Regions from separate parts of the Homo sapiens genome. Here region 2 is linked to region 1. The links come from fine-mapping of genetic effects on gene expression. A gene starts in region 1. The other region holds a variant in brackets. All regions are shown on one strand. Distances are from middle to middle.

The links. PIP is the estimated chance that this variant, and not a neighbour inherited with it, causes the effect. A credible set is the group of variants that fine-mapping cannot tell apart.
Region 2: its variant is the best candidate, but not a certain one, in a credible set for the expression of PTP4A2 in whole blood (INTERVAL, PIP 0.51).

The regions. Positions count from the first base shown.
Region 1 is chr1:31,936,125-31,940,517 of GRCh38, forward strand. It overlaps PTP4A2 (protein tyrosine phosphatase 4A2), which reads right to left and starts at 2,244. Exons shown (of 6, transcript NM_080391.4): 1 at 1,863-2,244. RefSeq lists enhancers at 1,401-1,450, 2,561-2,830 and silencers at 1,631-1,970, 1,747-1,918, 2,121-2,500.
Region 2 is chr1:31,902,805-31,907,197 of GRCh38, forward strand. PTP4A2 (protein tyrosine phosphatase 4A2) reads right to left here. Exons shown (of 6, transcript NM_080391.4): 6 at 3,617-4,393. Among named protein-coding and RNA genes, the nearest start is that of PTP4A2, 33 kb to the right of the region's middle. The variant C/T (reference allele first, on the strand shown) is at 2,130.

The DNA of each region.
Region 1 (4,393 bases):
TGATTTTGCCTGTAATTCTATTATGTTCACTATCAAAAGGACCACCCTCACGCCTGTTAATCCCAGCACTTTGGGAGGCCAAGGCAGGTGGATCACTGGAGGTCAGGAGTTCGAGACCAGCCTGGCCAACAAGGTGAAACCCCATCTCTACTAAAAATATGAAAATTAGCCGGGTGTGGTGGCACACACTTGTATTCTCAGCTACTTGGGAGGCTGAGGCGGGAAGATCATTTGAACCCGGGAAGCCTGGGCAACAAACAGAGCGAGACTCCATCTCAAAAACAAACAAAAAAAAAACAAAAGGACCATACTACTCTTTGCTTATACTGAAAGACTACCAACTTCTATCGCTTCTCGGCCTTTTGGCTAAGATCAAGTGAAAGACTACCAACTTCTAGGAGACATTATTTTTAAGATAACATCATTTTTAAGATTATATCAATGTGTAAAATCCCTATCAAGGTACTACTCTTCAAGAATCCCTACTTTTACAACACAAGAATGGGAAAAGTCCATGATAATAATTAGTCCATTCATTATGAAACTTAAAAATGCCAAGATCAGAATACCAGCAAACAACTTCTCACCATCTTCACCAATACAATGGTGTGCTGGCAAGTGATTCTGAAGCCCTGATAATGTGTCATTCTGTATCCTTAATCTCCTTTTGCACACTCAGCAAGGCATAACTTCACTCACTTCCCTCTGAAACTACTCTCTCTTACAGAGCATGACAGCAAGTACCATATTCCAACTCAGCAGTGTAATGTAGTTTGGCGACTCCGGACAGACAAACATTTGCTGAATGCCTACAGTGACACTAGAATTGCTAGTCACTGCTAATTTCTTGACAAATTCCAGGAAATAATAAACCAGACTACAGTTCAATTTACCTAACAATAAAATACTCTTCACCTGAAAAACTAGCAGTACTTTACAAAAGTTTATGCTCCTGAACACTCTACAGGCCAGAGTGTAGGATTTTGGGCAACAGACAAACTTCTTTTCGTTAGCTCTCAGGGGCCCCAGACTAGGATAGGATGGCATCATTGACAAATTTGAAAATTTACTTTGAAGTCATGAAACGTGGGAGAAAAAAATGTATAGAACAACAACAAAAAAACACATCACATCCTTTCTGGGGGAAAAAAATTAAAATCCCAGAGCCAGAAGATCATAGTGCCGCTGGAGGAGACTTATACCCCCTTTCCTCATACTTGAACCTGAAGACCCACGGACAAGATGCTCCCGGAAAGAACTCCCCAACCCAACACACCAGGGTTCACTATCGCCACACACAAAGACCAAGGGGAAGGGCCTCTAGGATGCCTGCTCACACACTGGACACACGCCGGCACACCCTACCACACTCCTGCCTCTGCCACGCACCTTCTCACCGACACACACCATGTTCTCCCCCCACACTCACCCGCTCTTTACCACACTCTCAACTCTCTCCTCCCCCATTTACTCACTCATTCTACCACCACCCCTCATGCCCACACGCTCCCCACACACCCATACCCTCCCCTGCCCTCACCCACATTCCCCCAACATCGACACTGCCTCCCGACGCGCTCCCACTCCCCCCACCTCCTCGCACGGACACTCAGCCCTGTCCCCCACTCACACGCCCTCCCTTCACCAACTCACTCTCCCCCACGCTCGCACAGCTCTCTCCCTTCCACACACACGAGCCCGCCCCTCGCTCACCCACCCTCGCTCCCCCGCCCCGGCCCGGCCCGGCCCTCCTTCCGGGGACGTGTCTCCGGCCTGCACTAATGGCTGCGGCGCCTCCCGCCCTCCCCTTCCCCGAGGCCCCCGGCGCCGGCGCGGGGGCCGCCCGGGAGGGGCGCACTCACGCTGGCGAGCTGGGGACTGGGCATTGAAGTCCGGCGGTGGCGGGAGCGAGGAGGCGCCTCTCTCCTCAGTCACCTCGGCGGCGGCGGCGGCGGCGGTAGCGGTGGCGGCGGCGGCGACGACTCCCCCCCAGCCTCGGCGCGCGACACCCGGCCCGGCCCGGCGGCGGCGGCGGCGGCGCGTCTCCACGAGTCCGTCTTGCTGCTGCTGCTGCGGCCGCCGCTGCGTCTCCTGCTGCCGCCGCTGCCTCCGCTGCCGCCGCTGCCCTGTGGCGTCACCTCGCGCCGTGCCCGGCCGCCGCTGCCGCTCCAGCCGCTCCCGGACAGACGACGGTTACAGCCCGGCCGATCGCGCCGCCACCACCACCGCTGCGCGCGCAGCCGGAACCAGCTCCCGCCGCCGCCCCTCAGGGGGCGCTGCGGGGCGCGGCGCGCAGGGCCACCGGCCCGCCCTCCGCGTTCGCTGACTGGCTGGCTGGCCGGCTCGCGGGCAGTTGGGCCCGCCCACCTGCCCCGCGGGGCGCTGACCCACTGCCCTGGGCGCCTCCCCCGCTCCTCCTCCTCGTGGTTCGTTCCGCTCCGCACTCCCGGCTACGGAAGGCGAGTCCATGTGATCGGGGAGGGAAGGCAGAACGTGGCCTGGGGAGTCGCTCGCCCACGCTGCGCCCCGCCCATCCGCACCTGGGCTGGGTCGAGGGCCTGCAGCCGAGGTGTGACCTGCAAGGTCGAAGGGTTCTTTCTCGCTACTTGGCCCTAAGGCCTCGGGTCAGATCCTGATGGGACGGGGTGGCCGCCACGTCCTGGGCTTGGGGATTTCCAACTCAGAAGTGGGAACCTGGCCAGCTCAGTTCTCGGCTGCCCTTCCTGAGGCCCCAAATGAATGGCGTGTGCATCTTCGTCGAAGATATTAATACGCCACCCCCAGCTCTGCCCACAAGACACACACCCACCCTAAGAACTGTCCCTGACAAGCCAAAATTCAGACTTTCAGGATGTAGGATCTTGGGCAAGTGATTCCAAGTATTATCAACTATTAAATGGAAATAATAATCAGCTACCTCATGGGCTCTTTCACGTATCGATAACAACGTATGAAAACGCTTGAGAAGGGCCAGGCGCGGTGGCTCATACCTGTAATCCCAGTACTTTGGGAGGCCGAGGAGGGCAGATCACAAGGTCAGGAGTTCGAGACCAGCCTGGCCAACATAGTGAAACCCTGTGTCTGCTAAAAATACAAAAATTAGCTGGGCATGGTGGCGCCCGCCCGGAAGGAGGGCCGTAATCCCAGCTACTCGGGAGGTTGAGGCAGGAGACTCACTTGAACCCGGGAGGCGGAGTTTGCAGTGAGCCGAGATCGTGCCACTGCACTCCAACCTGGGCGACAGAGTGAGACTCCGTCTCAAAAAAAAAAAAGAAAGAAAAAGAAAACGCTTGAGTTGAGAAAGTGAGAAAGAAGAGACCCTGAATTTCAAGCTTTCCGACTTAATGTCACCTTTAACGACGCAGATTATCGTAGAGATTCTCAGGTGGAAAGGTTTTTGCCTCTTGCATTTGGAAGCTAGCCAGAAATTCTTTGCCAGATCATGCGTCCTGAGTTTTGGTTTGGAAAATGTGGTCACTAGCGAGCTAGGAGGCTGGTTTGGGCCACGACCAGATGGCAAAGTGCGGCATTGGAGGCTGGCTTGGGAGGGAGATGTCTCCCCCTGGGAATTGCGGGTTGGGGAGGGTCTGTTCTTTCTGTCCACCCCTGGGAAGTCTTGCCTGCCCAGAACTGGCGCCTATATAGGAAGAAATGAAGATGCTCCCGTGGGTGCTTCTCCCCCACCTCGCCACCACATCCATGCTCATCCAGCCCTGCGGGGAGAAGCAGTGATCTGTCGTCATTAGACCTTCCCCACAAGGTAGACTTGGGGCATTGCTTCTGACCAGAAGGCTTCCATTAGCGCTTAGCAGTAAAAAGAAAGGTCTTATGACTCAGCCGCATCAAGCCACAGCACAGAGTCCAGGATGTTCACCACCAGGTGGCCCAGGAGGGGGTATTCTAGGGCAAGGCTGGCTAGCAGGGCTGTGTGGGAGTTGAGAGAGGCCTTGAGGAGCAGGAGGGGCTGCAGATCAGTAGCAAGGCCCTTAGGTGAGGAGCACAGACTGGGCTCACTTGCATTCTGTCTGCCTCCAGCAAGCAGTATTTTCTACTTCCTGGAAACATAGACTGATTTGAAAGAAAGAGCTACCACCTCTGCAAAACTTTTGCTGCGTCTGTGAGTTATTGATTCTTCCGATAAAGTTGCAAAACACCTTGTGCAATACTCTACCATAGTACTTAACATGGAATTGTAATTGCCTGTTTTCAGATTCTCCCCTGCTTAAATGGATCTATTTGGGGCAGTCTAGCAGATTGTTTGCTTGTTTGTTTTCATCTAGTAGATTGTCTGACCAAGTGAATGACCCTTCCCTCCACCTAGCTCTCCTTCTGGCCCTGAAATAAAATAATGTAATAACAACATTAACAACATAAGGATAAGAATAGTGGCTCC
Region 2 (4,393 bases), 33 kb before region 1:
TGGGCAACATAAAAAGACTATGTTTTGGCCAGGCACGGTAGCTCACGCCTGTAATCCCAGCACTTTGGGAGGCCGAAGTGGAGGGATCACTTGAGGTCAGGAGTTCAAGACCAGCCTGGCCAACATGGTGAAACTCCATCTCTACTAAAAATACAAAAATTAGCTGGGCGTGGTGGCACGTGCCTGTAGTCCCAGCTACTTGGGAGGCTGAGGCAGGAGAATTGCTTAAACCCAGGAGGTAGAGATTGCAGTGAGCCGAGATCGCGCCACTGCACTCCAGCCTGGGCCACAGAGCAAGACTCCATGTCCTAAATAAATAAATAAATAAAGGCTATGAAGACTATGTCTCTCCAAAAAAAAAAAAAAAAAAAAATTTTTTTTTTTGAGACAGAGTTTCGCTCGTCACCCAGGCTGGAGTGCAATGGCACGATTCTCCTGCCTCAGCCTCCCGAGTAGCTGGGACTACAGGCATGCATCACCCTGCCTGGCTAATTTTGTATTTTTAGAAGAGACGGGGTTTCGCCATGTTGGCCAGGCTGGTCTCGAACCCCTGGCCTCAGGTGATCCGCCCGCCTCGGCCTCCCGAAGTGCTGGGATTACAGATGTGAGCCACCACACCCAACCAAAAAATTTTAATTAGCTGGGCACAGTGACATGCACGTGTAGTCCTAGCTACTCAGGAGGCTGAGGTAGGATCGTTTGAGCCCGAGTTCAAGGTTACGGTGAGCTATGATCATGCCACTACACTCCAGCCTGGGTGACAAAACAAGACCCTCAAAAAAAAGTTATGAGAATTGACCATCGATCGGGGTGATCCTTTTTTTTTTTTTTTTTTTTTTTTTTTTAGACAGTCTTACTCTGTTGACCAGGTAGGAGCACAGAAGCATAATTTTGGCTCACTGCAACCTCTGCCTCCCAGGTTCAAGCGATTCTCGTGCCTCAGCCACCCAGAGTAGCTGGGATTACAGGCGTGTGCCACCACATCCAGCTAATTTTGTATTTTCAGTAGAGACGGGGTTTCACCATGTTGGGAGGCTGGTCTTGAACTCCTGGCCTCATGTGATCTGTCTGCCTTGGCCTCCCAAAGTGCAGGCATGAGCCACTGCACCCAGCCTCTGGCGATCTTTAACACGGGCTGTTCTGTGGAGTCAAAATCCTCATTGGTGCAAGCTCAAAGGAGAGAAGTAGAGAGCATAGATAGATAATTCTCAACTTGTACTAGAGAAGAGCAAAGAAGCGGGATGACAGCTGAAGGGGCAGATGCGGGGTCAAACAAGGATTTTTTTAAAATATGGAATACTAGCATGTTTATAAGCTCATGGGAATGATCTAGTAGGGGGAAAAGTTAATGAGCAGGACAGAGAAGGAAAATGGCTACACCTCTGGGCCCTTTGAACAGGTTAAGGGATGGAATTTAGCACACAAGTGGAAGAGCTTGCCTTAAATAGGGCAAGGACAGGCCGGGCAGTGGCTCATGCCTGTAATCCCAGCACTTTGGGAGGCCAAGGTAGGCAGATCATGAGGTCAGGAGTTTGAGACCAGCCTGACCAATATGGTGAAACCCCGTCTCTACTAAAAATACAAAATTTAGCTGGGCTTGGTGGCATGTGCCTGTAATCCCTGCTACTCAGGATGCTGAGGCAGGAGAATCGCTTGCTCCCGGGAGGCGGAAGTTGCAGTGAGCTGAGATTGCGCCACTGTACTCCAGCCTGGGTGACAGAGCAAGACTCAGTCTCAAAAAAAAAAAAAAAAAAATTGGGCAAGGACAGTCTGCCTATAGTAACTAAAAGACAGTAGCACAGATGCAGGTGGGTGAGTAGATGTGATGGGAGGAGCTTGTGAAAATTTTATTTCTAAGTTTTAAAAAGTCATAAGCTGAGAGGATGGCAAAGGTGTTAAAAATTTAAGAGAAAGTGTAAATGGGATAGAGAAATGTACTAGGATTGAGAGGTTTTGAGGCTCATGTGAGGTCATAGCTTTAGTTTTCAAGACAGGGTCTCACTATGTTGCCCAGGATGGAGTGCAGTGGCTGTTCACGGGCACAATCATTTCACAATGTAGCCTCAAAACTCCTGGGCTCAAGTGATTCTCTTGCCTCAGCCTCCTGAGTAACTGAGACTTAATAGGCG[C/T]GTACCACCTGGCCCGGGGAGGTCATGACCTTAGAGAGACTGAATCAGCATGTTCAGTTGTGTAAGTACTTAAGTGCACAGAAAGTGGAGTACTGAACTTAACCAAAAATGGATTTTAGCCAGGGAAGTACAATGCAACAAGAGATGGGGCAAGGCTGAAAAGCTGATTGTCACAGTGCATCACAGAACCTAAGCTAGGTAATGAAGGACATGAAGAAGTGAAAAGAGGTGAAGAGAAGTGGCAGGATCAATGAATTCTGAGACTCGTCTCGCTGTCACCCAGGATGAAGTGCAGTGGCACAGTATCAGGTCACTGCAACCTCAGCCTCCCATGTTCAAGCAATCCTCTCACTTCAGCCTCCCGAGTAGCTGGGACTGTAGTCCAGATGGTAGTGCGCCACGACACCCAGTTACTTTTTGTATTTTTTGTCAAGTTGGGGTTTGGCCATGTTGCCCAGGCTGTGGATCAATGATCTATAAATAGTACTATAACCACCCACTGTAACTGTTTTATGTCTACATATCTGACACCCCCTCCAGACTGAGGTACTCCAAAGTGAAATGAGTGTCGTATCTTTTCCTAGTATCTGAGCATGTTGTTACCTGGGTGGATGGATGCTTACCCATAGTGAAAGGGAAATTCCACACTCCCAAATCCTGATATATTAATACAGAGCTGTTACTTCCTCATTGTTCTTTAATACGAATTCAAGTACAAAGTTGCAATGCTTCACCAAAACCTATGGTATAAATAAGCTGGGTGCAGTGAGAGACTACTCAGAATGGCCATAGTATATGCGATTATTGACTCTGTGAATAGCCACTGCACTCCAGCCTGGGAAGCACTACACGACTCTGTCTCTAAAAAATAATAATCTATGGTATAAACCAAGCCTTTGACAAGATGCTGAATTCCTACAGGGTTGTATACAAGAACTGAACCAGAAAATGTACTAGATGTATCCCAGCTATGGTTAAGTTGGCTCTTCCTGAACACCTCAGTGACATAAAATCTTTGAATTTCCAAGCCTCTATTTTACCTCCTTGCAGTAAACTAGCAGGACCCAAAACAGTCCTTGAAAATAGCAGGCAAAGAAAGGGGAACAGATGTAAGTGAAATTTTGGTTTTGTTGTTGTTGTTTTGGGACAGGGTGTCTGTCACCAAGGCTGGAGTATAGTGGCATGATCACAGCTCACTACAGCCTCAACCTCTTGGGCTCAAGTGTTCCTCTCACCTCAGCCTCCCAAGTAGCTGAGACTGCAAGCACACACCACCATGCCCAGCTAATTATTAAACATTTTTTTTTTGTAGAGATGGACTCAACACATTACCCAGGCTGGTCTTGAACTCCTGGGGCTCAAGTGATCCGCCTGCCTTGGCCTTCCGAAGTGCTGGGATTATAGGCATGAGCCACTGCACCCAGCTTAAACTCCGCTTTATAAGCACAGACATAAACTCTTGAGGATGGAGGAAAAAAATGCACAAAGAGCGTGTAAAATATGTTTTATTGTTCTTTAAAAGGGTTCAGGGTTTGGTTTTAAATCAGGCTGCACACCTTTCAAATCAATCTGACATCTCTCTATGTCAAACTGGCTTCAGCTAGCAATACTTCATTAAATCGAAAAGAAAAAAATTGCTTTAAGGAAAAAAAATCCAGTTTTAAGAACAATTAACATTAGTCTTTAAAATAAAAGGAGGGCTAATGTTTCATGTTGCTTTATACATCCTTCTCCTCAATACAGAACCAGGAATGTAATTTTCCTAACTCAGGCAGGCACTGATACTGATGGACACTGCGCGTGCACACACACACACACACATACACACACACACACACACACACACACACACACCCCCTCCCCCCAAACAACAAAATTCAGAGTATGTCAAAGGAAAAAGGTTTGTTATTGTATTGATCAAAACCCAGTGGAATCAACACCATCTATCTTAGCTTAGCAGGTATGCTGTTTTGATCTTGAGTCTATATTAATGGAATCTATTGTTGCATTCTGAAATAAAGAATTTTGGATATACCATTATGTTTTAAAGTCCTAGAAACAATTTCGAAAAGCATTATTTTGTTTTGTTTTCTGGGATGGGAGAGGAGAGAATCTACAGATTTGCGTTTAGTTAAAAATCAAAACTCCAGCATAGGAAATAGGCAGTTCACATAGCCGGTCAACATGTGAGGTATCATCAGTGTGAGACAAGGTCCCGGTCTGTTCCTATTGGCCTAGCTGACGCTAACAAAATGGGAGGCTTA